Linked DNA regions of Homo sapiens. The protein of the gene in region 2 interacts with the protein of the main gene of each other region in a pairwise test. Each region holds a gene or a part of one and is shown on either strand. Other genes may lie near its edges.

Region 1 (16,980 bases), on a different chromosome or scaffold from region 2:
CACTACTACTAAGTCTGTATTCCTTATTGACTACTAAAGAAAGAAAACTAGTCAGGCATGGTGATCCACATCTATAATCTCAGCTATATGGGAGGCTGAGGTAGGAGGATCACTTGAGCCCAGGAGTTCAGGTCCAGCCTTGTCAACCTAATGAGATCCTGCCTCAAAAAAAAAAAAAAAAGGAAACCATATAAAGAATTAGATTTTGCTCTGGCACTGCTGAACATAGCATAGTGACACCTTAAGGCACCAGAAAGTACTGTTCAGATTGGCTAGCTAGTAGCTCCAGCGTGATCCCTGTTTGCCACTTTAATGTCCAGCCTTGTTTTTTCATATTCCCTTGAGCTTCAGGTAGCCAAGGCTAGAAAGATATACCTGTCACTGATGAAGATATACCAGTCACTGATGTGACAAGATTTTTGCCTTGAAGCTTGGCAGGGATAATGTCAGTTGACACATCTTTTTGCTGTTTTAAAGATATTTTTAGGTTTTAGTTTTATTCTTTAACATTCTGTTTCATCCTATGATCTTTCTTCACCTTTCACATCAACTTCTAATTTGAGTATAGACTGTTTTTGCAAAATTAGCTCTCATATTGATCTAATAAATATTATAGAGAGAGAAGTTTTAGATAAAAGAAATGCCTAATGACCTAAAAAGAGTTCAAATTCTTATATTACATCTGTTCCCTAAACTTTACCCTTTTATTCATACATCTGATTGTTAGTGTTATGATATATATCTTTCATTCTGAGCACTCACAAAGCCAGTGATTAAGTAATTCAGCTTGATAATTAGTTTTAACTTTTCAGTGGTTTTAAAGCCCCACTCATATAATTTTTTGTTGGATATAGTATAAAATTATTTAGTCAGTGGAGAATCCTTTCAGGAGTTTTCAGGGAATACAAGATTGTTGACATCTAAATCTGCAGCTGCATTCTAATAAATTGCCACTTTATTTACTTGAATTATATTTTCTCAGGAAACCCAAACTTGCAAATTTAGTCTTTTAAATTTAAGTGTACCAGCTTAATAAACTTAAAAAAAAAAAACATTTTAAAGTGTAGGGGGGTTACACATAGATATTTCTACCTGAATATTTGAGTAAAAACAATACATTAAAAGTAAAGTTTTTTCTCTCATATAATTTCTCAAACAGTAGGTGACCAACTAAACATGTGTTTGCACTTCTTGTTACTTGATGCTCATGGTTCTTTGCATGTGTCTTTTAAACTAGAGCTTTAACTTCCTCTTGTGCATGGTTTGTGCAAATTGCAGTTTATTAACTTGTCTTTGTCTTTGATGCTTGCAACCTAATCCATCACAGCTACACTGCCTCGAAAAGAAAGTGCTGTCAAACAGGAAACAGAGAGTGAGTATGCTTAGTGTATTAGTAGGTATTCTCAATGCATGTTTGTTTAATGTCTAGAAATTAGTTGTCTTGAAAAAAGGTAACACCAAAAATTTTGATTGCTCTGAATTGCCAGGTATTGGTGAAAGAAAGCCAACATGATGGTAGTGATATGGCTGTATCCAAGAAATATATGATATAGTTAAAATTACTTGACGAGTAGTAGAACATTGTGTCAGAAATTTGTGAAAAGACTTAACCATTATACTTCTATTTTCAGGCTGTTTAGAAACTATAAAAAATCTTATATAGATATGGTCGGATTTTACATAATGAAGCCAAAGTTTATCTTTAATTGTACCTGTTCTGTCTTCATTTGTCTTTTCTGACCATTAGCAAATAGTACAAGTTAACTGAGAGATATTCAGGAAGGATGTTTTTAAAATATATTAGTTATTGTTTATGTTTAATTCTGAATAAAAATATCACATTTTCTTCTAAAAATCAAATCCTTTAATTCCTTGGTGTATGTGAGCTATTGCCAGCTATATGTTCTCATTTTTCCTCATGGCTATGACGGATACCAAAATTTTACCTAAACACAGATGTCCCATATTAATATGATTAGTGATGTATGTATTACATTTCGGCTGTATTTTAAATATAACGAGTTTTCAGGGTGTTTTTTCTGTTCATTTTATTTAGTTTTTAAAGGACTATAATCAGTTCACTTACTGGAAAAGCAGTTTCAGAGTTTGGAACATACTAAGTTGAATCATATGTAATTGACTTTTTTTGGTAGGGCAAAATGATCAAGTATGGGCAGTTTCATGTGGTTCAACCTAATATATTGATTTATTGTGGAGGTAACATTGAGATGCAGCAGTTTTCTTCTGAAGTATAACAAAGTCATGCTGGCTAATATGCTAACGTGGTCCTCATTGACCTTCATCCATATTCCTGTCCTTTTGAATGGAAAAGAAACCCTCATCTACTTTAGTCTAGCGATATCACCAGGCGACTTTATGAAATGGGCAGGTTATAGACAATATGCTCCTTAAGGTCCCTTTCAGTCCCGTTCTATGGATCTGTGTAGTTTCGCTTCTTTTTTCAATATGCTCAGAATTAGGACACCAATGTTAATGGAAGATAAGGAAACTATACCACCTATCCCTTATAGAAGATTTGTGCACTAACTAATATGAGCCCTGGAAGATCAAGCCAGTAGAAGATAGAAGATCTATCCCTGCTTTATACTTTGGATCATTTATTTGTGAAGATCACAACTTTCAAAGTTTTATTATTTCTTAGGTCTTCATGGAAGTTCGGGGAAATTAACTGGATCTACTTCTAGTCTAAATAAGCTCAGTGTTCAGAGTTCAGGGAATCGCAGATCTCAGTCATCTTCCCTGTTGGATATGGGAAACATGTCTGCCTCTGATCTCGATGTTGCTGACAGGACCAAATTTGATAAGGTAAACTAAAATAACAAGTACTTCTTAAACATTAACATTAGTTTTCTAACAGCAGTTTGTGGTTGCTCTAAGTGTGTTCAAAGATTTGGGTTCTTCTGGCTCTCTTAAGCATTAACCATGTCTTTCCAACTGAATCGAATCTGGGAAAAAAAAAAAAAAAAACTAGTCAAAGGACAAGTAAAATGTGAATTATCAATGAAATGGCATAAAAGCTTTATTAAAATTTGTTATAAATCATAAAATGCTTATATCTCAAATCTAAGTTGTTTGGGCACCTAAAAAGTAAGAGGAAATAAAAGCTTTTGTGATGCTGGCCTTTCTCTGTACTAAATTAAATAAGTTTTTTTGTTTGTTTGTTTTTGAAATGGAGTCTTGCTCTGTCACCCAGGCTGGAATGCAGTGGCACAGTCTCAGCTCACTGCAACCTCCACCTTCTGGGTTCAAGCAGTTCTTCTGCCTCCCTCCCAGGTAGCTGGGATTACAGGTGCCTGCCACCACACCCAGCTAATTTTTGTATTTTTAGTGGAGATGGGGTTTCACCATGCTGGCCAGGCTGGTTTCGAACTCCTGAGCTCAAGTGATCTGCCCGCTTTGGCCTCCCAAAGTGCTGGGATTACAGGCATGAGACATCATGCCTGGCCATAAATAAGTTTTAAAAGTTGATCTTTGTGCTCCTCTTTCCAGATGTGAAGTGAATAACTGTGAGTTTTATTTTAGGTTTATTTTGTGGCCTTGTTATACCTTGCTAATACCATTGTCCTGTAGATCTTGGAAGAGTTTGTTTTTGGGATTCCATTGAGATTATAAATTCATAGATTAGTGAGATTATGGATCCATGGTCTGTGCAGAAAAGAAAATTAAATGTGGAGTGTTATTTTAAGCATTTGGTGCAGTTCTTTCGTTATAGGATCACTTTGGTTTTCTTCAGATCTTTGAACAGGTACTAAGTGAACTGGAGCCCCTATGTCTGGCAGAACAGGACTTCATAAGTAAATTTTTCAAACTACAGCAACATCAAAGTATGCCTGGAACTATGGTATGGCTCACAGTGTATTTTGGATAGTATTTATGATCTGTAATATAATTAGCTTAATTAATATGTGGTCACAATTTTATGATCAGAAGAGAAAAGGAAAGAATTTATCATGTAAGGATTTTTTTATGATGTAAGGATTTAGGATGTAAGGAATTTTTGTAATACCACAAGATGATAAAAACAGTGACAGATGAAGTTTGGGCATCTAATTTAATATTTCAGAATATTACAAGCCTAAATATTCTCTAAATTAGTGGGGGGAGGAATGTCTGAGTTTACTTTGCAAAGAACATTATTTAAAAGGCTAGTTTAACATTTTAGTAGTCATCAAGATAAATATAATGTTTTAAAATGATGTTAGAGTGTATACACTTTGGTATACCAAATAACAATAATGATAAATAAAAGAAAATGAGGCCTCAGATTTGCCTTCCTTGTGGCTTTGTTACTAACTAGCCATGAGATCTTAAGCCAGTTATTCGATCCCCAGCTTTCCTCTTCTGTAAAGTAGATATCATAGTGCCTATTCAGCATGCCTTTCTGGTAGCATACATATAAGAGAATAAGATGAGAGAGTTTCTTGAGTATTTTGAAGAACTTAAAAACAGTGCAAATAAAGTGTTTTTTAAATTATCATCTCAAAATTGTATGCCACAGACAACCAACTTATAAAAGCAGTCATAAAATAAATGAGAAATGGATTATGATAAATGGTTTAGAGTGTTCATTGTTATGGTAGTAATGGTGGCAAATTTGTTTATTTGTTGGCCTCTGTAAGAATTTTTTATAGCATTTTTTTAATGCTGAAGTTCTATTAGAATAATTGATGAGATTTCCTTAATTTTTTAAATTCTCTTTTGAAAGTTGTGTTTGGACGTTTTCTATTTTTGTGGTGGTTGTTGTCAAGCTGCCCCCACTCCCACACCTTGCGTTCAGCTTCCTGTACCTCCCTACTTCCCCTCAGGTGCACACACAAATACAACTTCTCACCCCACAAAAGTTCTTGGATAAAACCTAAGAAGAGTATCTCATGAACATTCTTAAATAGCATACTAAATTATATAGCTAGCTTTATCATAATGCTACCTTTAAAAATATTTTTCATAATGTATTCTTTCCTAGGAATTTTAAGACTGAGCAGGCTTTTGCTATATCAATACTAGTCAAATTGTTGGTCTTTTATTATGTAAAGTGCCTGAATAATTTTTGCAGGCTGAAGCAGAGGACCTGGATGGAGGAACATTATCACGGCAACATAATTGTGGCACACCACTGCCTGTTTCATCTGAGTATGTCTTTGTTACTATCATTGTTTATTTTGGAAAAAATAAACTTTAAAATGTGGAGTGCTGCTCATTGAGGGGTCTAGATGTTTCTCAGTAGCCTGACAGCACTCACAGTACCAGCATGTGTGTCCATTGTCTTATCAAACGTTTTACTGATTTAAAATAGGGCCTATTTTATGGCTCTTCAACTCTTCCTTGCTCCAGGACTTACAGAAGATGAAGTCAGTCTGTTGTTTGCTGGTAGGGGGAAGCCTTTGAATTGTAGTGTATTTCTTAGAAATCACAAAGCACATTTCATGACCCAGCTTTACAAATTAAAACTAATTCAAATGATAAAACCCAACATCAGTAAAATATTTTTATATCAAAAACTACTATAATCATATTTAGACATTTTTATTTGTTTTTTGTTGTTGTTGTTTTCTGAGATGGAGTCTCCCTCTGCTGCCCAGGCTGGAATGCAATGGCGCCATCTCAGCTCACTGCAACTGCACTTCACCTCCCGGGTTCAAGCGATTCTCCTGACTCAGCCTCCCAAGTAGCTGGGATTACAGACATGCACCACCACGTCTGGCTAATTTTTGTACTTTTGGTAGAGACAGGGTTTTACCATGTTGGCCAAGCTGGTCTTGAACTCCTGACCTCAGGTGACCTGCACACCTTGGCCTCTCAAAGTGCTGGGATTACAGGCGTGAGCCACCACGCCTGGCTATTTAGACATTTTTAATTGAAATTTAATTATGGTATTTTTGTCCTTTTGTATATACCCAGTGGATTAAAGTTAACGGTGAATTCACCTGAAGCTTGTTATAACTTTATACTTCTTGTCTGTTTTCTGAACAGGAAAGATATGATCCGCCAAATGATGATTAAAATATTTCGCTGCATTGAGCCAGAGCTGAACAACCTAATTGCATTAGGAGACAAAATTGATAGCTTTAACTCTCTTTATATGTTAGTCAAAATGAGTCATCATGTGTGGACTGCACAAAATGTGGACCCTGCTTCTTTCCTAAGTACTACATTGGGAAATGTTTTGGTGACTGTCAAAAGGAACTTTGACAAATGCATTGTAAGTTTTCTTTTTTAAAAAAATACCTTAGCATCCTAGTCATTGCAAAATATAGGTAAATGTATTTAAAATCGAGGGATTTCCAGCTTTCTGTTGGGGAATCTGTTGTTTATGTCCCTCGAAGCAGGGCATGGCAACAATCTACATGAACAGAGTTAGTTGGGTGGCACTATGCCAGCTAGTTTCCATTCCACACTGTGAATCTTGGCAAGTTCTGGAGGAAGTGGCACAGTGGCACCAGTTGCTTAAGAGATCCACTGGAGGCCAGACGCAGTGACTCACACCTGTAATGCCAGCACTTTTTAAGGCCGAGGTGGGCAGATCACCTGAGGTCAGGAGTTCGAGACCAGCCTGGAGAACATGGCGAAACCCCATCTCTACCAAAAATACAAAAATTAGCCGGGCGTGGTAGCACATGCCTATAATTCCAACTACTCGGGAGGCTGAGGCAGGAGAATTGCTTGAACCTGTGAAGTGGAGGTTGCAGTGAGCCAAGATTGCACCAGTGCTCTCCAGCCTGGGTGACAAGAGTGAAGACTGTGTCAAAAAAAAAAAAAAAAAAATCTACCGAATCACTGACATCTCAGTTTATTAGTCAATGACCATTGATTTAATGAAACAATTGAAACAATCATTTGGGTTTATTGTTATTGTTCTTCTTTTAATACATTCTAGTAAGAAAACTAATTTGATTATTTTAATTATTTAATTTATTTTAATAGTTTAGTAGCTTTAATAATTGTATTTTATTTTAGGAATAAATTGTTATAACTGAGCAATTATCATTTTCCTCCTAATAGAAAAAAATTTGACAACTTTCTTACTATCTGTTACTTTTTTTTTTTTTTTTTTTTTTTTTGAGATGGAGTCTCGTTCTTGTTGCCCAGGCTGGAGTGCAACAGTGCAATCTCGGCTCACCGCAACCTCCGCCTCCTGGGTTCAAGTGATTCTCCTGCCTCAGCCTCCCGAGTAGCTGGGATTGCAGGCATGCGCCACCACGCCCTGCTAGTTTTGTATTTTTAGTAGAGATGGGGTTTCTCCATGTTGGTCATGCTGGTCTCAAACTCCCAACCTCAGGTGATCTGCCCACCTCAGCCTCCCAAAGTGCTGAGATTACAAGCAAGAGACACCGGCCATCTATCCATTACATTTTTTATACTTGTATGTATGAATTGGGCTAGGCCAGGTTAAAAAATGCTTCATGAACACTTCTCAAGGCATGGCACTAGAGAAGGTAATCTAGACAAAGATATAAATTCATATTTTCTCATAAGTTGCATATATATATATAAAGGACATAGGTTTGCCACTGAAGAGGAGGGTGGTTTCTTCTGCCTGTCATACTTCTGTATATCTTATTTCAATAATGTCTTATTTTTGATAAGATCTTATCTCTCATTTATGAACACTGGTCAATAAGATCAATAGACAGCATTTATAAATGAGTGCTTACTGTGTACCAGGCACAAGTCTGGGCACTTTGCACACATTATGTCATCTAATCTTAAACCCAGCCCCTCAATAAGGTAGATTGTTTGAGAGGTGAAGTTACTTTCCCCAGGTCCACAGTTAAAAAATATGGATCTTGTATTCAAACCCAGAAAGTCTGGTTCTAGTACCTGCAATCTTACCACTACCTTTTCTACTGCATCTGTTTTTCACCTCACAGTTACCAATACTGATGAAGTAGAACATTAGTACAGATAATATGAAATAACTGACTATACTCTTAGGGTTTTCTTATACTAATGTCAGAAGCCTAGAGATAATTATTTTTCTAATCCATGTGTCATATGGTTTTTGAGTTATACTCCCCAAATCTCAACACAATGAAATGTTAGGTAGAAGCTGAAATAATACAAAAGTATTTGGCAGTGTAATCATTCCTACTGAGTAGATTTAGATCCCTTCAGAATCATAGAACCATAATTGAATCCGTGGATCGTTTTGAACCTAAGATTCTGTCTGCATGAAACATTTCTTTCGCATTTTGTCATATAATGCACAAGCAGTTTGTGGAACTAAGGCTAAGTGACTAATAAATATATGGAAAATTAAATAATGCAAATCCATATGGAAATGCCTATCCTCCCTCTTTGTTTCTGTACTCTGAAAATAGAGAGTTTGTCTATCCAGACAGAAATTTTAGACTGACGAAAATTGGAAATGACTGTGGTTCTCAAACTTGACCACGTGGCCACCAACCAGAAGTTACCCGGAGGGATCCTATAGGTGCTCTGGAATCTTCTCTCCTGTAACCTAAAATCAGTAATTGCCTTGTACTCATCTTTCATAAATGGTAGAAATGTGTGTTGACTGTTTTTACTTTGTACAGAGACTTGAAGTTCACGGCCTTGATTGTATTTTGTTTTGTTTCATTTTATTTTTTGAGACAGTCTTGCTCTGTCACCCAGGCTGGAGTGCAGTGGCGCAATCTTGGCTCACTGCAACCTCTGCCTCCCAGGTTCAAGCAATTCTCATTCCTCAGCCTCCCAAGTAGCTGGGATTACAGGCATGCACGACCCCACCCAGCTAATTTTTTTTTGTATTTTTTGTAGAGACGAAAATGGCCAGGCTGGTCTTGAACTCTTGGCCTCAAGCGATCCACCCACCTTGGCCTCCCAAAGTGCTGGGATTACAGGCATGAGCCACCGTCCCCAGCTTATAGATGGTTTTAAATAATCTGTATTATTTTGATTTTCTTAAACTTACTGTAAAATGGTTTTATTATCTATAGAATTAGTTTTTCTTAGTTATCCTTGTTTTGATTCATCTTCAATTAGTAAGCATCCAAAGTGTTCTAGGTACCACATAATATCCTGCCTCTATGATATCTATGTATATATCTATATCTCCATCTATATATTTTGTTATGATTATATGTAGTTTTAAAGTTGCTTGGTTATTTATCTCCCTTGCTCTCTGCCTAACTTTAGAGTAACCAAATAAGGCAAATGGAAGAAGTAAAGATCTCAAAAAAGAGTAAAGTTGGAATTCTTCCATTTGTTGCTGAATTTGAAGAATTTGCTGGACTTGCAGAATCAATCTTCAAAAATGCTGAGCGTCGTGGAGACCTGGATAAAGCATACACCAAACTTATCAGAGGAGTATTTGTTAATGGTAAGCTTTTGTTATGTTCTAAAGAATTGTTATAGCTATTGTTTTTATTTCTGGTAACTAAGAAATCGGGAGCAGATAGGTTCATTATTTTGTATATCTTATAATCTTTTTTAGGTTTTCTAACATTAAAGATTTCTTGAATTTGGAAAATAAAACCTATTTGTATTCATTATGAACCACTTACATTTTAGGGTTTATGTGGGCTTATGACTATGCAAAATTGAAAATCTTTTTTTTTTTTTTTTAAGATGGGCCTCACTCTGTCGCCCAGGCTGGAGTGCGGTGGCATGATCTTGGCTCACTGCAACCTCCACCTCCCAGGCTCAAAAGATCCTCCTACCTCACCCTCCCAAGTAGCTGGGACTACAGGTGCACCCTACCATGCCCTGCTAATTTTTTGTAGAAAATCATTTTTTAAACACAAAAACATGACCTTCCAGATTACATTTGCATTTTAACAAGTGGTCTTCTAGAGATGATGGGCTGTGATGTGTGTGTAACCTTAAGCAAATCAATTCACTTATTTAGGACTCAGTTTTTCATATCTACTATACAAGGAAATTAGTACTAAAATACAAGAGAAATTAGTGCTGAAATACTGTAATTCGCTTTCTTCCTGTGTCAGATCCCACAATTAAGTTACAGAAAAGTCTGGACATGTCATTTCATCTGAAATAAATGATCTGATTGCATATATTCAGGAATTGTAAAAGCTAAAAAATTGATAGAAAATGGAATCATCTCACCAATTGTTGCCCAGGTTGGAGTGCGGTGGCATAATCTCGGCTCGCTGCAACCTTCACCTCCCGAGTTCAAGCAATTCTGCTGCCTCAGCCTCCTAAGTAGCTGGGATTATAGGCAGGCATCATCACGCCTGGCTAATTTTTGTATTTTTAATAGAGACAGGGTTTCACCATGTTGGCCAGACTTGTCTCAAACTCTTGACCTCAAGTGATCTGCCCGCCTTGGCCTCCCAAAGTGCTGGGATTACAGGCATGAGCCACCGTGTCCAGCCTTGATTTTTTCTTTTAAAATTCAAAGTAGCTTTGCTTTATCTGATTCTAAAGTAATGTGGCTAGGCACAGTGGCCCACACCTGTAATCGCAGCACTTTGGAAGGACCAGTTGGGGGATCGCTTGAGCCCAGGAGTTCAAGACCAGCCTGGGCATCATAGTGAGGCCTTGTCTGTACAAAAAAAATTTAAAAAATTAGCCAGACGTGGTGGTGTGTCCCTGAGTTTCAGCTACACAGGAGGCTGAGGCAGGAGAATCATTTGAGCTCAGGAGGTCAAGGCTGCAGTGAGCCTTGTTCATGCTACTGCACTCTAGCCTGGATGACAAAGCCAGACCCTGTCTTAAAAATAAATAATAAATGAATGAATGAATTCATTATTCGTTCTTTATAAATCTTTATAAACTAAAACTTATAAAACTTAAGAACAGACAGATATTCCTTTAATTGGATAAAAAATCTATCTCAGGCCTAAAGGTTACATGATACTTAACTGCAACAGTAGAGATATTCCCTCTGAAATGAATTTAAAGCAGAAGTATTGTTAGATCCTTTATTATTTAGCATTGTTATTGAAGTGCTAGCCAGTACAAGACCTGAAACATAAATAACTATTTATCCCCAAAAATCAGCGAATAGAATTTTCAAATCAAGAAGAAAGTAAAGATCATTTTTAATCTTGTTGTACAGAGATAATGTTAAATTTTTATTCTTCCAAACTTTTAAATTCCCTGTCCCTCTCTTCTATATATGGGCATATTGTATGTGTGCTTTCTTTAATATAAAAGTGTTGTCATACCTGACACACTATTTTTGAAGCTGCTGGACTCTATATAATCTTAGTATCTTTCTTAGTTAGTTAATATAGATAAACATAATCATTTTTAATGATTGCATAGTCATCCATATGTCATTATCCATTTACCAAATCTTCTATTAATAAACATTTAGGATTTTTTTAGTTTATCTATCTTTGTATACTTGTCAAATAATTTCTTTAGGGTAAATTACTAGAAATGGAATTACTGGGTCAAAGGATTTATGTATCTCAAGTCTTTTCCCAAATTGTGATACAGAAAGCTTATGTCAGTTTAGTGCTATGAGCAGTTGCATTACAGCTGTACCAATGCTGGGTTTTACTAGGTATTACCAATCTTTTTATTCTTTGTCAACCTGATAGGCTATAAATTATCTCACTATTTTATTTTGCATTTCATTGATTTTGTATATGGTGTCTTTACTTTACATGAATTTTCAAATTTTATCTCCAATTTATTTATCTTTCCCCTTAACAGTCTTCTAAATTTTGGGCCATTCTTAGCAAGGTCACACTATTGCAAAATTATTATTTTTCTATTAGTTATATTTTCTTTAGTACTTATGATTGTATTATTTGTTTGCTTTTTACATTTTAAATAATTTAGCAATTTAGAATTTGACTGCAAGATGTAAAGTAGGAACTTAAATTTCATATATTAAAATGGTCCAGCCGGTTGTCCTAACACATTTTGAATAATTCATCATTTCTCCATTGATCTGAAAAGCTACTTTTATTATATACTGAATTTCCATATACACATGGGACTGTTTTAGGATGACTTTTTATTATGATTAGGTAGATCTGAAGACTCCCATTACAATATATTGTATTAAGTCCAGAAATGTGCTTAATTCTTAAACTTACAAATGAAAAAAAATTAATAGTATAAATGTTTATAGCTAAATATGGTCATACTCAGAGATGTTATTTTATTTTTTCTGTTTTGGTTTTAGTGGAGAAAGTAGCAAATGAAAGCCAGAAGACCCCCAGGGATGTGGTTATGATGGAAAACTTTCACCATATTTTTGCAACTCTTTCTCGATTGAAAATCTCATGTCTAGAAGCAGAAAAAAAAGAAGCCAAACAAAAATACACAGATCACCTTCAGTCTTATGTCATTTACTCTTTAGGACAACCTCTTGAAAAACTAAATGTAAATATATTTTCATTCAGTATTTTTCCTACTTTTGAACCTATACACATAAGTTTGCATATGAATAACCTGCAGACATTTATCTTAAATTTTCTCATGTGTTGGTGCACAGGGGACTCAGTTATTGAAGCTGCCAGTGTGCCAGACACTGCTAGATGCTATATATTTTATTTCTTCTTTCTGTACATTATTTTTATACATTATTTATCTACTATATTTTAATGATAATTGTACTAGTATTCTATTATGCATTATTTCTTTTAATTCTTATAAACAATGATGTGTAAGCTAAGATAATATTATCCCCATTTCACAAATGAAGAAACTGAAAGTAAAAAAACTTGCCCGACATCATAATAGCTTATAAATTACAAAGCTGGGGGATGAACCTAGATTAGGCTTTGCCGTTACTCTTTCCCATTTCTTACTTTATAAATGACCAAGTTTACAATGTCTAGGTGGAAATTTCAAAAATATTATTAAGATAAAAGAAAAACCAAAAATTGCTTTCTACATTGCCTTTTACTTTTCTTTCCCTTCTTTTTTTTTCCTTACTTGAGTCATTTCCCAGAGTAAGTCTGTTAATTAAAGTTAAGAAATGATGATTTTAGGGAACTTTACAAGATAGTGAAAGCTTAAATGAACCTTTTAAACTAACTTTGTCTGCAATATAGTTATCTTTTATAAGCTCTTAACTTGAAGTTAGAGTAAAATAGCGCGGTGACTCACACCTGTAATCCCAGCACTTTGGGAGGCCAAGGCAGGCGGATCACGAGGTCAGAAGATCGAGACCATCCTAGCTAACAAGGTGAAACCCCGTCTTTACTAAAAATGTAAAAAAAAATTAACTGGGCGTGGTGGCACGCTCCTGTAGTCCTAGCTACTTGGGAGGCTGAGGCAGGAGAATCACTTGATCCTAGGAGGTGGTGGTTGCAATGAGTGGAGATCACACCACTGCGCTCCAGCCTGGGCGACAGAGCAAGACTCAGTCTCAAAACAAAACAAAAAAAAAGAATATGTATCTGCTGTCAACAATTCAAAGAAATACTTGAAAGACATTTAATCAAATGCAGAACTAATTCCTTATAAAACTTAAGAACAGACAAATATTCCTTTAACTGGATAAAAGATCTATCTCAGGCCTAAAGCTTACATGATACTTAACTGCAACGTTAGAGACATTCCCTCTGAAATCAATTTAAAGCAGAAATATTGTTAGATCCTTTATTATTTAGCATTGTTGTTGAAGCACTAGCCAGTTCAACAAGACCTGAAACATAAATAAGAGATATGGAAAACAGAGACGAGATTATCACCACCTGTATATGATATGTTGAAATTACTGGTGTTGGTCAAGTGACAAAATTTAAAGCAAATATACTGAAAAACAATGTATTTCCTGTCTACCAATTAAGAGCTTATGTAAAAACAAAATTTTTAAAGCACTAAGAATAACTTCTCAAAGAATGATAATTTAATGAATAATCACTAAGAAAATTTTAGAAAAAAGTAATGAGAGGGAATGGGGTTTGTCAGCATTAATTCTTTGTATCGTGCTCAAATACAGTTATGCCAGTCAATAAAAGTATATATATAAAAGAAGACCTGGGAATAATAGTTACAATAATATAACAGAGTCAGTATATTTAATATAAAAAATCTTACTAAAATCAATAAGAAAAGCACTAAGACCCCAATTTATAAATGGGGCAAGGGGCTGAATCACTACTAAACATATAAAAGCAGGTTAACCTTATTTATAGCCAAAGAATTATAAAATAAAATGACAAACTTTTTTTACTCTGGCAACTATTGTTATAAATTGTCATAATGCTTATGATGGTATAGTGAAGTAGCAACCTCATACACTGTTGACAGAAATATAAATTGGTTGAGCTTTCCTAGGAAGCAGTTTGTATATATACTGAAGAATCTTTCAAATACTTAAAGTTATGCTCTTCAACAGAGTAATTATAGTCCTGGAAATTTAATCAGTAAGATGGGTAAATACTTATATACAAAAAAAATTTATGACAAATATATTTATAGTAGATTTTCTAAAGTCTCACTAGATTTGCCAAGTCCAAAAAAAGAAGGGGGAGTGGGATGTTAAATATCTAGTACTAGAGGAATGAATAATAATTGTGGTTCAGTCATTGTGTGAAATATTATGCAGCCATTAAAATTTATATTTAGGAAAAAACAATATTAAATGTAAAGTGGGACATGAAATTTTAATCTCCTGTATGTATTCACACATCAAAAGATTACAAGGAACTCTACAATATTAACAATGTTCATCTCAGAAGTATGTTAATAAGTGATTGTTATTTTATTGTTTATACTTTCACACACTGATTTTTGCATGGTGATTATACACTACTTTGTAATCAGATTTTTTTAATGTAAATAATAATAAATGCAGGTCTTAGCCATTGTTTCTTTTCATTTCCTTGAAGCATTTCTTTGAAGGTGTTGAAGCTCGCGTGGCACAGGGCATAAGGGAGGAGGAAGTAAGTTACCAACTTGCATTTAACAAACAAGAACTTCGTAAAGTCATTAAGGAGTACCCTGGAAAGGAAGTAAAAAAAGGTCTAGATAACCTCTACAAGAAAGTTGATAAACATTTATGTGAAGAAGAGAACTTACTTCAGGTATGCTTACTTCTTTTGACCATCTGACTTAAAGATCCTTACATATATTGCTTTTCTTTAAATAATTTTCTAGAAATGCTACAGATCTAGAGCAGGAGGAGAGTTCCATTAGAGTACAGACCAGATTAATGAATTGTGAGGAAGAAAGGAATACTGTTTATATAAGCATATATGGCTATTTCTGCTTATTTCGTATTTCTGCTATATTATGGTGAGGCATTAAGTTTGTTTTTCTTTGGTTGGTTGGTTGGTTGGTTGGTTGGTTGGTTGAGTGGTTGGAATTAGAGATGGGTTCATAATCTGGCTCCAGATTAAGCTGTGTGACTTTGGGAAGTTACTTAACCTCTCTGAGCCTTAGTTTCCTTATTTGATAAGTGGAAACGATACATCTCTTGTACAGTAGCCACTGTATTGGGCAACATAGCAAGACCTTGTCTCTACTAAAAATTAAAAAAATTAGCTGGGCATGGTGGCACGTGCCTGTAGTCCCAGCTACTCGGGAAGCTGAGGCAGGAGGATCACTTGAGCCCAGGAGATTGAGGCTCCAGTGAACTATGATCCTACCACTGCACTCCAGCCTACGCAACAGAGTGAGGCCGTGTCTCAATTAAAAAAAAAAAAAAAAAGAAAGAAAGAAAGAAAAAGAAAGAAAGAGAAAGAAAGAAAATCAGCTTAGAGAGGTGGAGTAATAGGACCAAGCTCTCTTAACTAATGGGTAGTGGAGCCAGATTTAAAGTCCAAATTAGGCCATTATTCTTTATAAACCATATTGAAAGGCCCAGATATGAGTGAGAGTAATTCTGATTTCAACATCATGGAAGACTTCCTGAGGGATATTGCATTGTTTGTTTTAACCTCTGAAAGTCAGATGTACTTGAACAGGCAAAGTGGGGATGGAGGGAGTAGCATTCTAGAAAGAAATAATATGAGCTAAACGATGAAAAGTAAAAAGCATAACACTGCTTAGGGAATAGCGATTGGTCTTAAGTTGGCAGGAATTTAGGATTTATGAGATTTAGGATTTACAAGAAAAAATCTTGGAAGAATACATTCCCTCAGCTGTCAAATAGGGAAGATGATCATAATACCCACCCTCACCAGGTCATCATGAGACTTAATACTATAATATATTCATAAAGTGCTTTGTACTGTGCTGATAAAGAGTAAGCTTCAATTAATGTAATCTATTTAAGCCATTATGTCAATGTGTGTATCACATTGTGTCTTGGTAATTGTCTACATATTAGCCTCCACTGTTAGATTATAAATCACATGATTGCAGATAATGGGTCTGAGTCATTTTGCTGTCCTCCAAGGCATCAAGCAAGGTTTTGCATCAACAATTTTAGATAAAGAAAACTTTAAATGTTATAGGAAATGAAATTAAAGCATTACATTTTATGTAATCACTAGTCTTAGTTCTATACATAATTGTGCATATCCACATCTGTGTTGCATATTGGAGTATATAAGATAATAGCTAAAATGTCATGAGTGCTTACTTGTGTCAAACGCAGTTTGAAGCACTTTATGTACATTTCTTATTTAATTCTCACAGCATTATGAGGAAGGTCTTATTATTATCTTGGTTTATAGATGAGGAACTTGAGGCATAGAGCAGTGATGTCATGTACTGAAGGTTACAAATCTTGTAGGTAAAAGTGACTGGGATTCTGGTTTCAGAATGCATGTTCCTAGCTACTATACTACCCAAATTCTTAGAATATGCCTTGGCATTATTTCTGCATACTAGATTACATATTATTTCCATTCATAGCCTAATGACTTTTTTTTTTAATAATAGGTGGTGTGGCACTCCATGCAAGATGAATTTATACGCCAGTATAAGCACTTTGAAGGTTTGATAGCTCGCTGTTATCCTGGATCTGGTGTTACAATGGAATTCACTATTCAGGACATTCTGGATTATTGTTCCAGCATTGCACAGTCCCACTAAACCTTGTGAAAGAAGAAAAGATAACTGAATGAAGCATTTGAGTAT
Region 2 (11,846 bases):
GGCTTAGGCATGAGAATCTCTTGATCCCAGGAGGCAGAGGCTGCAGTGAGCTGTGACCAGACCACTGCACTCCAACTTGGGTGACACAGGGAGACCCTGTCTCAAATAAAAAAAAAAAATCAAAGACTAGTATCCAACATCTAAAACTAAACCAACTTCCGTGGTCCTTCACCACCCAGGGAAAGGAGACATTAACAGTTATGTTATCGATGATAATGTGAAGTTCAACTTTTTTTCTAGCCTTCACCAGGAAAATCAGTCACATTAAGAATACAAGCCAGGCACAGTGGCTAATGCCTATAACCCCAGGACTCTGGGAGACCAAGGCGGGAGGACTGCTTGAGCCCAGGAGTTCAAGACCAGCCTGGGAAACAAAGTAAGACCCCATCTCTACAAAAAAAAATTTTAATTAGCCAGGCATGGTGACATACACCTATAGTCCCAGCTATTCAGGAAGCTGAGGTAGGAGGATCATCTGAGACTGGGAGGTCAAGGATGCAGTGAGCTGTGATCATGCCACTGCATTCCAGCCTGGGCAACAGGGCAAGACCCTGTCTCAAGAAAAAAAAAAGAATATACTGTCTAAAAATTTTCCATGAAGGACTACTGAGATATCTCACAAAGTCTGATTTTTAACATAAGGATTATGTTAATATAAAAAGTTATGGGCTGGGCAAGGTGCCTCATGCCTGTAATCCCAGCACTTTGGGAGACTGAGGCAGGTGCATCATTTGATGTCAGGAGTTCGAGACCCGCCTGGCCAACATGGTGAAATCCCGTCTCTACTAAAAATACAAAAATTAGCCAGGCATGGTGGTGGGTGCCTATAATCCCAGCTACTTGGGAGGCTGACACAGGAAAGTGGCTTGAAACCGGGAGGCAGAGGTTGTAGTGAGCCAAGATCGCATCACTGCACTCCAGCCTGGGTGACAGAGCAAGACTCTGTCTCAAACAATAAGTAAATAAAATAAAATAAAATAAAATGTTATAAACAATTACCTTTTTTTCCTTCCCCACTATTACATTATTTCTTAATTTATTCATTGCCCAGCTTTCTAGTTTAATTTTTTTTTTTTTTTTGAGACAGAGTCTTGCTCTGTCTTCCAGGCTGTAGTGCAGTGGCATGATCTCAGCTCACTGCAGCCTCCACCTCCCAGGTTCAAGGAACTCTCCTGCCTCTGCCTCCCGTGTAGCTGGGATTACAGGCACCCACCACCATGCCCAGCTAACTTTTGTATTTTTAGTAGAGACGGGGTTTCACCATGTTGGCTTGGCTGGTCTCGAACTTCTGACCTCAAGTGATCCACCTGCCTCGGCCTCCCAAAGTGCTGGGATTACAGGTGTGAGCCACCGCGCCTGGCCCTTTCTACTTTAATTCAAAATACTAACTTCTACCTCTAGTGTTAAATCAAGAGATCATAGTTTCATTAAAAAAATAAGGAAGAAAGTTCCTTCTCCACTTTACGTATCTTCATTTTATTCTATTTTATCCACCCATTAGTACTGTCTAATCTTGGTCCTAATCACTATTCAGAATTGCAACCTCCAAAATCTCAAATTCTGAAAATCTACTCTGACCTTGACCTCCTATCTTTTCACCCTCTCTCATGCCCTCACTTCTAACCTACTCTTCCTTCATTCTTATTACAACTCTCAGAGGCGTTTGAACCAGAGCAACTCCATCTCGAATAGGGGCTAGGTAAAATAAAGCTATGACTTGCTGAGCTTCATTCCCGGACAGTTAGGCATTCTAAGTCACAGGTTGAGATAAGAGGTTGGCACAAGATACAGGTCATAAAGACCACGCTGACAAAACAGGTTGCAGTAAAGAAACTCACCAGAGCCCACCAAAACCAAGATGCTGACAAGAGTGTCCTCTGGTTGTCCTCACTGCTACACTCCTACCAGTGCCATGACAGTTTACAAATGCCATGGCAATGGCAGGAAGTTACCCTATATGGTCTAAAAAGGGGAGGCATGAATAATCTACCCCTTGTTTGGCATATCATCAAGAAATAACCACAAAAATGGGCAATCAGCAGCCCTCATGGCTGCTCTGCCTGTGGAGTAGTCATACTTATATTCCTCTACTTTCTTAATAAACTTGCTTTCACTTTATAGACTTGCCCTAAATTCTTTCTTGCCCAAGATCCAAGAACCCTCTCTTGGGGTCTGGATTGGGACCCCTTTCCAGTAACACAACCTTTACTCTGTAAGTTCCTCCTGATACTTGCTTTCTTCCTCACTTTAATGCTCACACATTATTATTCAACTATTCAGCTAAGAATCTGTAGTATGTTTTTTCTCTCATCCCACGTCTGTTTATTCAGAATTTCCAATTCTGAATAAATTCTACAGGTATTTTCGTCAGTTTCTGAGCAGCTAAGCATTACTGGTTACTCAACCATGCTATGCTCACTGGCTCAACTACAAATGTGTGGTTTCCAAATCTCAAATAAGCCATCAACCCTGCATGACAATACTTGTATTCATCTTTAACTGACACTCTTTGTGATTTCCTCTTAGCAGCCTTGTAAAATGTTTCCACTTTTCTCAAACTTCCTAATTCCTCCACCGTTATTTACATCTTCATGCCTCTTTTTCATGCTATTTTCTTTGCTTAAAATGTCCTTCCTTCCACTCTCCCACTACTTATGACTCCTGTTCACTCTGATTTCTCCTACGGAGCTCTCATGTCCAGCTCAAACATCATCTCCTCCAAGAAGCCTTTCCTCCATGTAAATCATCACTTCCCTTTCTGTGCGAACACTGTCTCAAGAACATAATTCCTTATCATGGCACAGATACCACATTGCAATTTGTTTACATGCACCTCCCCCTTATTGTGGGCAAAGCATCCTATTCCTAGCATCTAACAGTTTATTACACAGTAAGTACTTAGAAACTATTCCCATATTAATTGATCTTTGAATGAACTAGCCCTTCATCCCTCTCACTGAGTATTACATTTAGATCCTGATGAGAGAGCTCTGCCCTGAGTCCAACTCCGGCCCTCCTCGGCCCACATGCTTCCACTGGGAGAGGAGTCCATGTAAACAGGGGGATGTGCCTATATACCTCCCTTTTTTTTTTTTTTTTTTTTTTCAGACAGAGTCTCACTGTCACCCAAGCCGGAGTGCAGTGGCGCAATCTCGGCTCACTGCAACCTCCGCCTCCCAGCTTCAAGTGATTCTCCTGCCTCAGCCTCCCGAGTAGCTGGGATTACAGGGGCCCGCCAACATGCCCTGCTAATTTTTGTATTTTTATTAGAGACGGGGTTTCACCATATTGGCCAGGCTGATCTTGAACTCCTGACCTCAAGTGATCCACCCGCCTCAGCCTCCCAAAGTGCTGGGATTACAGGTGTGAGCCCCCAAGTCTGGCCTACCTCCCCACTTTTAAATGACACTCCAGGTGCCCAGAACTTTGCAATTTCTTGCCCAAGCACTTCTAACTCAATTTGAAGGCCCACACAGGCCTCTTTCCTAGGTCTGTCCTTAGAAAAGACTGTGCTACACTTGTGTACACCCTTGGGCCAAGGAGTACTTGTTTGGGGATGGGAGTACAAGAGCTTAGACCTTGTGCGTGCATGCAAGGTGTTCACAGCATGTACAGGAGACCTCTTTGTGGTGCTAGAAAGAGCCAGAGATGACGGGAGGAGGTTGGGCTTAACCACACTCTGCTGCAAAACTGTGAATTTATGAATTCTAAATTCCACAGATTTTAAATTTGAAACTTTCAAGTCATTATGAAGGTATATTTATCAAGAGAAAAGACTAGAATATAGATAATGATTTGTTGGCCTGGTTTATAAGCTTTAAATATTTAGGCCTATTGTGGTAAATGGATGCTTATCCTGGATCTTACAAATGTTAGGGGCAGATCTCCTCTCACTCAGAGTGAAGTTGATGGGTTTTATCCACCTATTTTTATTAATTATTAAAGTAGGCCAGGCACACTGGCTCACGCCTCTAATCTCTGCACTTTGGGAGGCTGAGGTGGTGGATAGCTTGAACCCAGGAGATTGGAACCAGAATGGGCAACACAGCAAAACTCTGCCTTTACAAAAAACAAAAAACAAAAAAAAGAAAAGAAAAATTAGCTGGGCATGGTAGTAGTCCTAGCTACTCAGGAGGCTGAGGTGAGAGGATCGTTTGAGCCCAGGAGGCAGAGGTTGCAGTGAACCAAGATCTCGCCACTGCATTCCAGTCTCGGCAAGAGAGAGAGGCCTTGTCTCAAAAAAAAAAAAAAATTATTAAACTAGTAAAATAGATCTAAGAAGGCATAAAAATAGAATCAGGAATAAAGAGAACATTTAAAGTAATTTTCCAGTTTCAATAACTAGCTAAATATTAAATGATTGATTCAGGATTTAAACTTTCAAGCCCATGTTTTTGTTTTTGCCCTCCCACCACTCTGACTCTCCAAAAGCAGCCAGTTTACTAATTAATAAATTAAGTATTATACAGATGTCCCAGTACCAAGTATAATCTCAAATACTATTTCTGAATATTGAAAACTTAATGCCTAGAATGGTATCAAACTGTTTCATGGATCCTAAAAGAAAGTCAGCTGGTGTCCTTTTGAAAGAACTGGTCTTCCTTTCCATTTATCCTGTGAGAACTAGTCTCCCATAATATATATTAAGAGAAAATTTTCAGTTAAAAAATTTAAAAATACTCTCAGGTATAACAACTAGTTCACCTGTTCTTCTCTAGGTTCTCATCATTTCTGTAGTTTAACTACATATGAATCATATTGAGAATGAGGCAATCACAATGGACTTTTCTTGAAGACAGTCCAATACAAAGCTGTGGACAAAAAAATCTCAACATGGCCCAGGCACGGTGGCTCATGCCTGTAATCCCAGCATGAGATTTTGGGAGGCTCAGGTGGACAGATCACTTGAGGTCAGGAGTTCGAAACCAGCCTGGCCAAAATGGTGAAATCCCGTCTCTACTAAAAACACAAAACTTCACCAGGCACGGTGGTGGGCACCTTGTAATCCCAACTACTCAGGAGGCTGAGACAGGAGAATTGGTTGAACCTGGGAGAAGGAGGTTGCAGTGAGCCGAGATCACGCCACTGTACTCCAGCCTAGACGACAGAGTAAGACTCCGTCTCAAAAAAAAAAAAAAAAAAAAAAAACTCAACATATTGGACAGGAAAGTTATTGGAAACCAAACTGAAAGCACTGTATATTCTAATACTATAAAAAACCATGGACCATGAAATCTTGCTCCTATCACCTTGCCTCAAAGGAGATATAACATCGGTGGGAAAAATATCCAATAAAGGTAATTAAAACAAATACGGGGAAAGAGAGAGAACAAACAAAAAGGAGAAACAGAAGACAAACTAAAAAATAAACTAAATTCTACAGTACTAAAACTAGAAGGTATTCTCAAAATTTTGAAAATTAATAAAATTGCAGCTATCTTCACTTATTCCTTCAACATTTACTTACAACTTACGACATGCCAACTTCTATGCTAGGTGCTAGTGATACATGCTAAGTACTAGGTTAGGTGCTAGTAATATGTGAGACAAAACATCTAGCCCCTAAACAGTAATACTGCAAAGCAATAGCTACGCAGGTGAAGGTACTTCCGAATCATAAGGAAGAAAACAACTCTGCCTGGGGACTTCACAAGGTATTAAAGGAAGAGCAGGAATTGGTTAGTCAAAGAAAAGGGGAAGGATAGTCTAGAGCAGGAGTCTCTAACCCCTGGGCCATGGATTGGGTCCATGGCTTGTTAGGAAAGCCACACAGCAGATCAGTGGTGGGCGGGCAAGCATTACTGCCTGAGCTCTGCCTCCTGTCAGATCAACAACAGCATTAGATTCTCACAGGACCACAAACCCTATTGTGAACTGTAGATGCGAGGGATCTAGGTTGCACTCTCCTCATAAGAATCTAATGGCTGATGATCTGAGGTAGAACAGTTTCATCCTGAAACCATCTCCCCTCAGCCTTGCTCCATGTAAAAATCGTCTTCCATGAAACCAGTCCTTGCTGCCAAAAAGGTTGGGGACCGCTGGTCTTGAAGAAAATAATTCTAATGATAATAATATAAATAAAACAATAAAGAGCTAACATTTATTGGACACTTTCTATATGTTAAGCATTGTACATACATTATTCTATTTGATTCTCATAACAATCCTGTGACTTTTTATCCCACTTACAAATTAAGTAACTTACTAAAGATCATACAGCTATATAGAGGTGACACTAACAGAGATCATACAAAACTAAGCTGTCGGCCAGGCGCAGTGGCTCATGCCTGTAATGCCAGCCACTTTGGGAAGCTGAGGTGGGAGGATCACTTGAACCCAGGAATTCAAGACCAGCCTGGGCAAAAAAGTGAGACCCGGTCTCTATAAAAAAAATTTTAAAAAATTAGCCAGGTGCAGTAGCACATGCCTGCAGTCCCAGCTGCTTGGGAAGCTGAGGTGGGAGGATTGCTTCAGCCTAGGAGTTTGAGGTTGCAGTGGGTTGCGATTGTGCCACTGCAGTCCAGCCTGGGTGACAGAGTGAGATCCTGTCTCAAAAACAAACAAACAAACAAAAAAACTAAGCTGTGAACTATCATGATTTACTTGAGGAGCCATAAGTAGGTAGATATAGCATAGCACAGGATAATAATAATGACAGCAACCAGCACTGGGGATATAGTGGGTCAACAAAACAGAAAATAGACTTATCTGTCCCTGCCTTAGTAGATAATCCTTCCCCATCAGGAAGGGAAACATTATCTCCCATCTTATAAATGTAGGAACTGTAATTTGGAGATATTAGGCTCACATACCAATAAGTAGCACAGCTAGAACTGAACCCAAGTCTATGTCTATCTGACATAAGGCTCAAATTCATTCCACTTTACTACACATGGCTGTATTATTCAATCATTCAACAGAAATATATCAAGAATGTACTGTGTGTCAAACACTGTCCTAAGAATACAGAGACAAAAGATAGAGTCCCTGGCTTCAGGAAACTCACAGCCTAGTCAATAGAGTCAAGCAAAGAGTCAGGCTGGTTTGTGCCTATAATCCCAGAACTTTGGGAGGCTGAGGTGGGTGGATCGCTTGAGACCAGCCTGGGCAACACAGTGAAACTCCATCTCTACAAAAAATACAAAAATTAGTCAAGCATGGTAGCGCGTGCCTGTGGTCCTAGGTACTTGGGAGGCTAAGGTGGGAGGATAGCTTGAGCCCGGGAGGTGAAGGCTGCAGTGAGCGGTGATCATGCCCCTGCACTCCAGCCCGGGCAACAGAACAAGACCGTCTCAAAAAACAAAAACAAAAACAAAAAAAAAAAACAAGCAAACAAACAAACAAAAAAGGGCAGATGACTTCTGAAGTCCCTTCAAACCCAAAATTCTAAAGGAAAAGCCATAACAAGTTTATCACAATTACCAAGTGTTCCAAGTACAGCTCTCTATAACTATCTAATAGGGTTGAATCATAAATAATAATTCCAAATATTGTTCTGATACTATTAACAATTTTCTCAGTACTTAAAATCCTAAGACATCCATATTTTCAACCGTTTGGGTAATATGAATTGGACGTTTTTAAAATTTTAGGAGTATGAAATTAACTACAATGTCACAAATTCCTTAAAAACTCACAGCAAGTAATATTCAAAACTGGCTCCAGAATTAAATGACATCTCAAACAGGAAAATAATTATTTCTACTTCACTGTCACCAAGCCCTACAACTGATAACAATAAAGAAAAAAGATTTCAATCCACTGAAGTAGGAAAATGCCCTACAGCGTACAGAAGAGCTGGCCCATCATTCCAGATCTCTGAATAGCTTTCCTCTTCCTTCCCATTAGTTTAAGACGATTGAAGTCATGTTACAAGTTCTAACAGAGATTATTTGCTTCAAAAAGCTACTCAATGAAATTCAGGATTCATCTCTGAATACAGTAAATCTCAAGTCAGTGAAAAGACTTCAAAATTGTGAGGCAGAGTCAGTAAACAGTGTCATGAAGAAGTTAGCTCTTCACTTTCAGAGTCTGGGTGCAAAACAGCAACAACAGAGTCATTAAATTAATCAATTTTCTTAGTCTTAATAAACATTTTAGATGAAAAAACTTATATAATAAGGTTCCTGGCCAGGTGTGGTGGCTAATGCCTGTAATCCCAGCACTTTGGGAGGCTGAGGCAGGCGGATCACGAGGTCAGGAGATCGAGACCATCCTGGCTAACACGGTGAAACCCCGTCTCTACTAAAAAAATACAAAAAATTAGCCAGGCGTGGTGGTGGGTGCCTGTAGCCCCAGTTACTCGGGAGCCTGAGGCAGGAGAATGGCGTGAACCCGGGAGGTAGAGCTTGCAGTGAGTTGAGATCACACCACTGCACTCCCGCCTGGGCATGGAGCGAGACTCTGTTTCAAAAAAAAAAAAAAAGGTTCCTATAAAAAAAGTCCATCTCACATCTAAAAGCAGTAATATAAGACTAGCAGAGCAAAAATGTAATTAAAAGTATATAAACAGCCAGGCATTGTGGTGCGCGTGCCTGTAGTCCCAACTACTCAGATGTTTAGGGTGGGAGGATGGCCTGACCCCAGGAGTTTGAGGCCATAATGCACTATGATCACATATTCCAGCCTGAGCAACATAGCCAGACCCCATCTTGAAAAACAAAAAAGTATACAAACATATTTCTACTGGTGGCCAGAGACCAAATTTGCCCTCCTCCCTGAAACAACTGGGGGGAAAAAAAGACAAAATACATAAAACGTTTTTCAAGACATTGGACATCAGGCAACAAAAGACAGTGATCCCCAATCGATGGGAAACAAGCATGAATCCAACAACTGCTCCAGCATTATGGCCTTGAAAGAGTTTCCAGGCCACAGAACAGGAAGAGGGGAATCCAGGCAGAGCACAATGGTCTGAGCTGAGGGGACAGAACTGAGTCTGGAGACAGCAAGGTAGCTAAAGTACACAGGGCAGAGTACTTAACAGAGTTGAACAGTGAGAAAGATCTGCAGAGGGTATCCCTCAAGTCTGAGTACTTATCAGAATATAAGTGTGAGGAAACTACCCAAAGATAGTGAAAGAACCACCAAAAAGACTGAGAGCGAACACCACCAAGTAGGTCCTGTTTCCACCAGCTGGAGTATTCAGAGGGGTTTTGCCTCAACAGTGTGACAAAGTAGTACTGCCTAACAAATCTTAAAAGCATGTCCCCAAAAGATCAAACTGTTTTCAGGTAACTTAATGCATCCCAGAACGAAGCTCAAGATTTTTGTATTTAATGGAATACAAAAATATCCAGCGCCAAACAAGCTAAAATTTCAAATGACTGGCATCAAATTAAAAAAAAAATCACCAGGCATGCAAAAGCAACAGAATCCATAATGGGAAGAAATATCAATCAACCGAAACCAACCCCAAAATGACACAGACAGAATTAGCAGACATAGACATTAAGCCAATTATAACTGTATTCCATATGTTCAAGAAGCTAGAGAAAAGACAGAGCATGAAAAACATAGACATGGAAGATATAAGACAATTTCTAAAGATGAAGTTATAATATCTGGAATGAAAAATATGGTGGGTGGGATTAAGAGCAGACTAAACATTATAGAAGAAAAAATTAATAAATTTGGAGACATCACAACAGACTATCCAAAATGAAACAAAGAAGACTGAAAGAAAATTGAATTAAACATCAGTAAGTTTTAAGACAACATCAAAGCTACTAATATATATGTAACTGGACTTCCAAAAGGGTGAAGAGGTCAAATAAATAAATAAATAAATATATATATATATATATATATATATATATATATATATATATATGTATATATTTTCTTCTAGGAATAATGACTGAAACTTTTCTAAATTTGATAAAAACTATAAACCCACAGATCCAAGACACTCATTGAATTCCAAGCACAAGAAACATGGAAAATATATAAATAGTTTCATTTACAAAGGGTTCTTGCTCACAAATTCTGTAACTAAATGTACTGTAGAAATTAGACTAGGCCTAACTTTTACATTTACTAGGTATAGAGTTACAACTGACACTTTATAATAGAGTACATTAAAGCATACATTAATCTAAGTAAAGTGCTTAACAGAAATCCTAATGACTTCAAAATTAGCAAAATACAGCTTATAAAACAATGTATATTTTGTTGCCCTATCAGTTAAATAATTTATTAAGATAAATTTGATCTTATTTTAGCAAATTATTCAAACAAAGCAAAAGTATACTTTTTTTTTCTTTTCTTTTCCTTTAATTTTATAGGTCATTTACAACAGAATTAGGACACCGAAAAAAAATCTAAAGAAACTGAGAGGTGGAACTGAAAATACAGAAGCAGATTTGTGGTTTGGAAAGGAGCTAGTCCTCATGAAAAACAGCAACCTGACAAACACTATTTTGGAATACCGTCATTTTCAAAATATACATATATTTTTTAAGCATAAAACTGCATTTGAAGTGGAAATTAACGTATTTGTTTTTAGCACCTCAGCTAAGTATTTAGGATGCAAAAAAAAAATCTAAATTTTTCTGGAAAAAGAATCATTCAAATAAAAACCATTAAAGTGGAAAACTAAAGTAATATATTTCCCTATTTTTGTGAACACACATTTTTAGCACACAAATTCAAAATCTTCCGTCTAAAAATAAGCACAATAAAGAGACACAGGGGAACAAATTCTGAGTATCTACTGTAATGGCTACCCTTTCTGTCATGTAGGTTCCCCAAAAGAGAAGTCAGTTTATTATCCTACCATTTTGCTTAGGAAATAGTCAGATATTTTGAGGATAAAAAATAATTCCATTACACAGCTGTCAAAAATACATTTACTAACCCTGGAAATAATTGATGTCTACGCTCTTTTTTCCTTTCTTAAGGAAAAAAATAAATATATACATATTTAGATAACATATATATTTCTTTGGGTGCCTATGAAAACAAAACACTGGTTGAAAATGTATAATAGTATAATACTTCCCTGTAGGATCAACATGTACATGAAAAACAGCCCACAAATCTCTTTGAGCACACAGAGAAGTTAACACGAGAGCAATTTTTTATAGATGTGACTTCTACCCTCTTAAACATAAAAATCTAAACCAATAAAATACAAAATTGATAAGGTTATCAGAGCAGAATGGTAGACTTATTCTCTAGTAACAACTATTTATTGATAACACACCAATTTCCCATACATATAAAAGTTCCAAACTACCTCTTCTCATCAGATTCTATTAAAGAGAAATAAGACTAAGTATACATTACTTTGAGCACAACTGAAAAATTCAGTTTGATAAACTACATTAGCGTACTTAGAATACACGTATGCTACAATAGCTGTAATTAGATAAAAGCTGAGTTTTAATTTTACTGATCCAGCTACCAATATACTTTCACTATTCAATTCCCATCTCAAAAGCATACTTTCCTACTTAGTACAAACCCAATATTATAAACACAAAAGACAAAGATTTGCCCAATAAGTCGTTATCTAATTGTTATCAAGACTTGTTATTTGCATTTCAAAACCTGTAAGAATACCTTAAAATGATCCCTAAAATATTAAGCAACCTAATAATTCACACAATAAATCATCTCATCAGGCTTTAGTTATTACAGGCATTTAAATTATTTACTACAGCAAGAGTCCTCACCAATCAGAACTGTTTGAAATTTTCTCTTCTGAAATCTGCTATTACTTAACGAGTTTCAAATTTTGAGCCATTTATTTCTAGATATAAAGGTTAATAAGAAACATTTCTGCATCAAATGCACATAACTTCACAGTAAAGTCTTTTTTCCTCTCTTAGGAAACCAGATTC

Evidence for each region.
Region 1: the proteins of CCDC88A (region 2) and EXOC1 interact in a two-hybrid assay, tested with the Homo sapiens proteins (2 studies listed by BioGRID and IntAct).

What each region holds. Positions count from the first base shown.
Region 1 is NC_000004.12:55,887,561-55,904,540, forward strand, and holds part of EXOC1 (exocyst complex component 1), read left to right. Parts: intron 1-1,327; coding exon 1,328-1,372; intron 1,373-2,031; exon of another isoform or gene 2,032-2,662; coding exon 2,663-2,826; exon of another isoform or gene 2,827-2,966; intron 2,967-3,754; coding exon 3,755-3,862; intron 3,863-4,984; coding exon of another isoform or gene 4,985-4,993; exon of another isoform or gene 4,994-5,074; coding exon 5,075-5,151; exon of another isoform or gene 5,152-5,152; intron 5,153-5,991; coding exon 5,992-6,220; intron 6,221-9,156; coding exon 9,157-9,340; intron 9,341-12,124; coding exon 12,125-12,324; intron 12,325-13,274; exon of another isoform or gene 13,275-13,594; intron 13,595-14,783; coding exon 14,784-14,978; intron 14,979-16,782; coding exon 16,783-16,935; 3' UTR 16,936-16,980.
Region 2 is NC_000002.12:55,406,656-55,418,501, forward strand, and holds part of CCDC88A (girdin), read right to left. Parts: intron 1-11,846. UniProt on the Homo sapiens protein: Bifunctional modulator of guanine nucleotide-binding proteins (G proteins). Acts as a non-receptor guanine nucleotide exchange factor which binds to and activates guanine nucleotide-binding protein G(i) alpha subunits.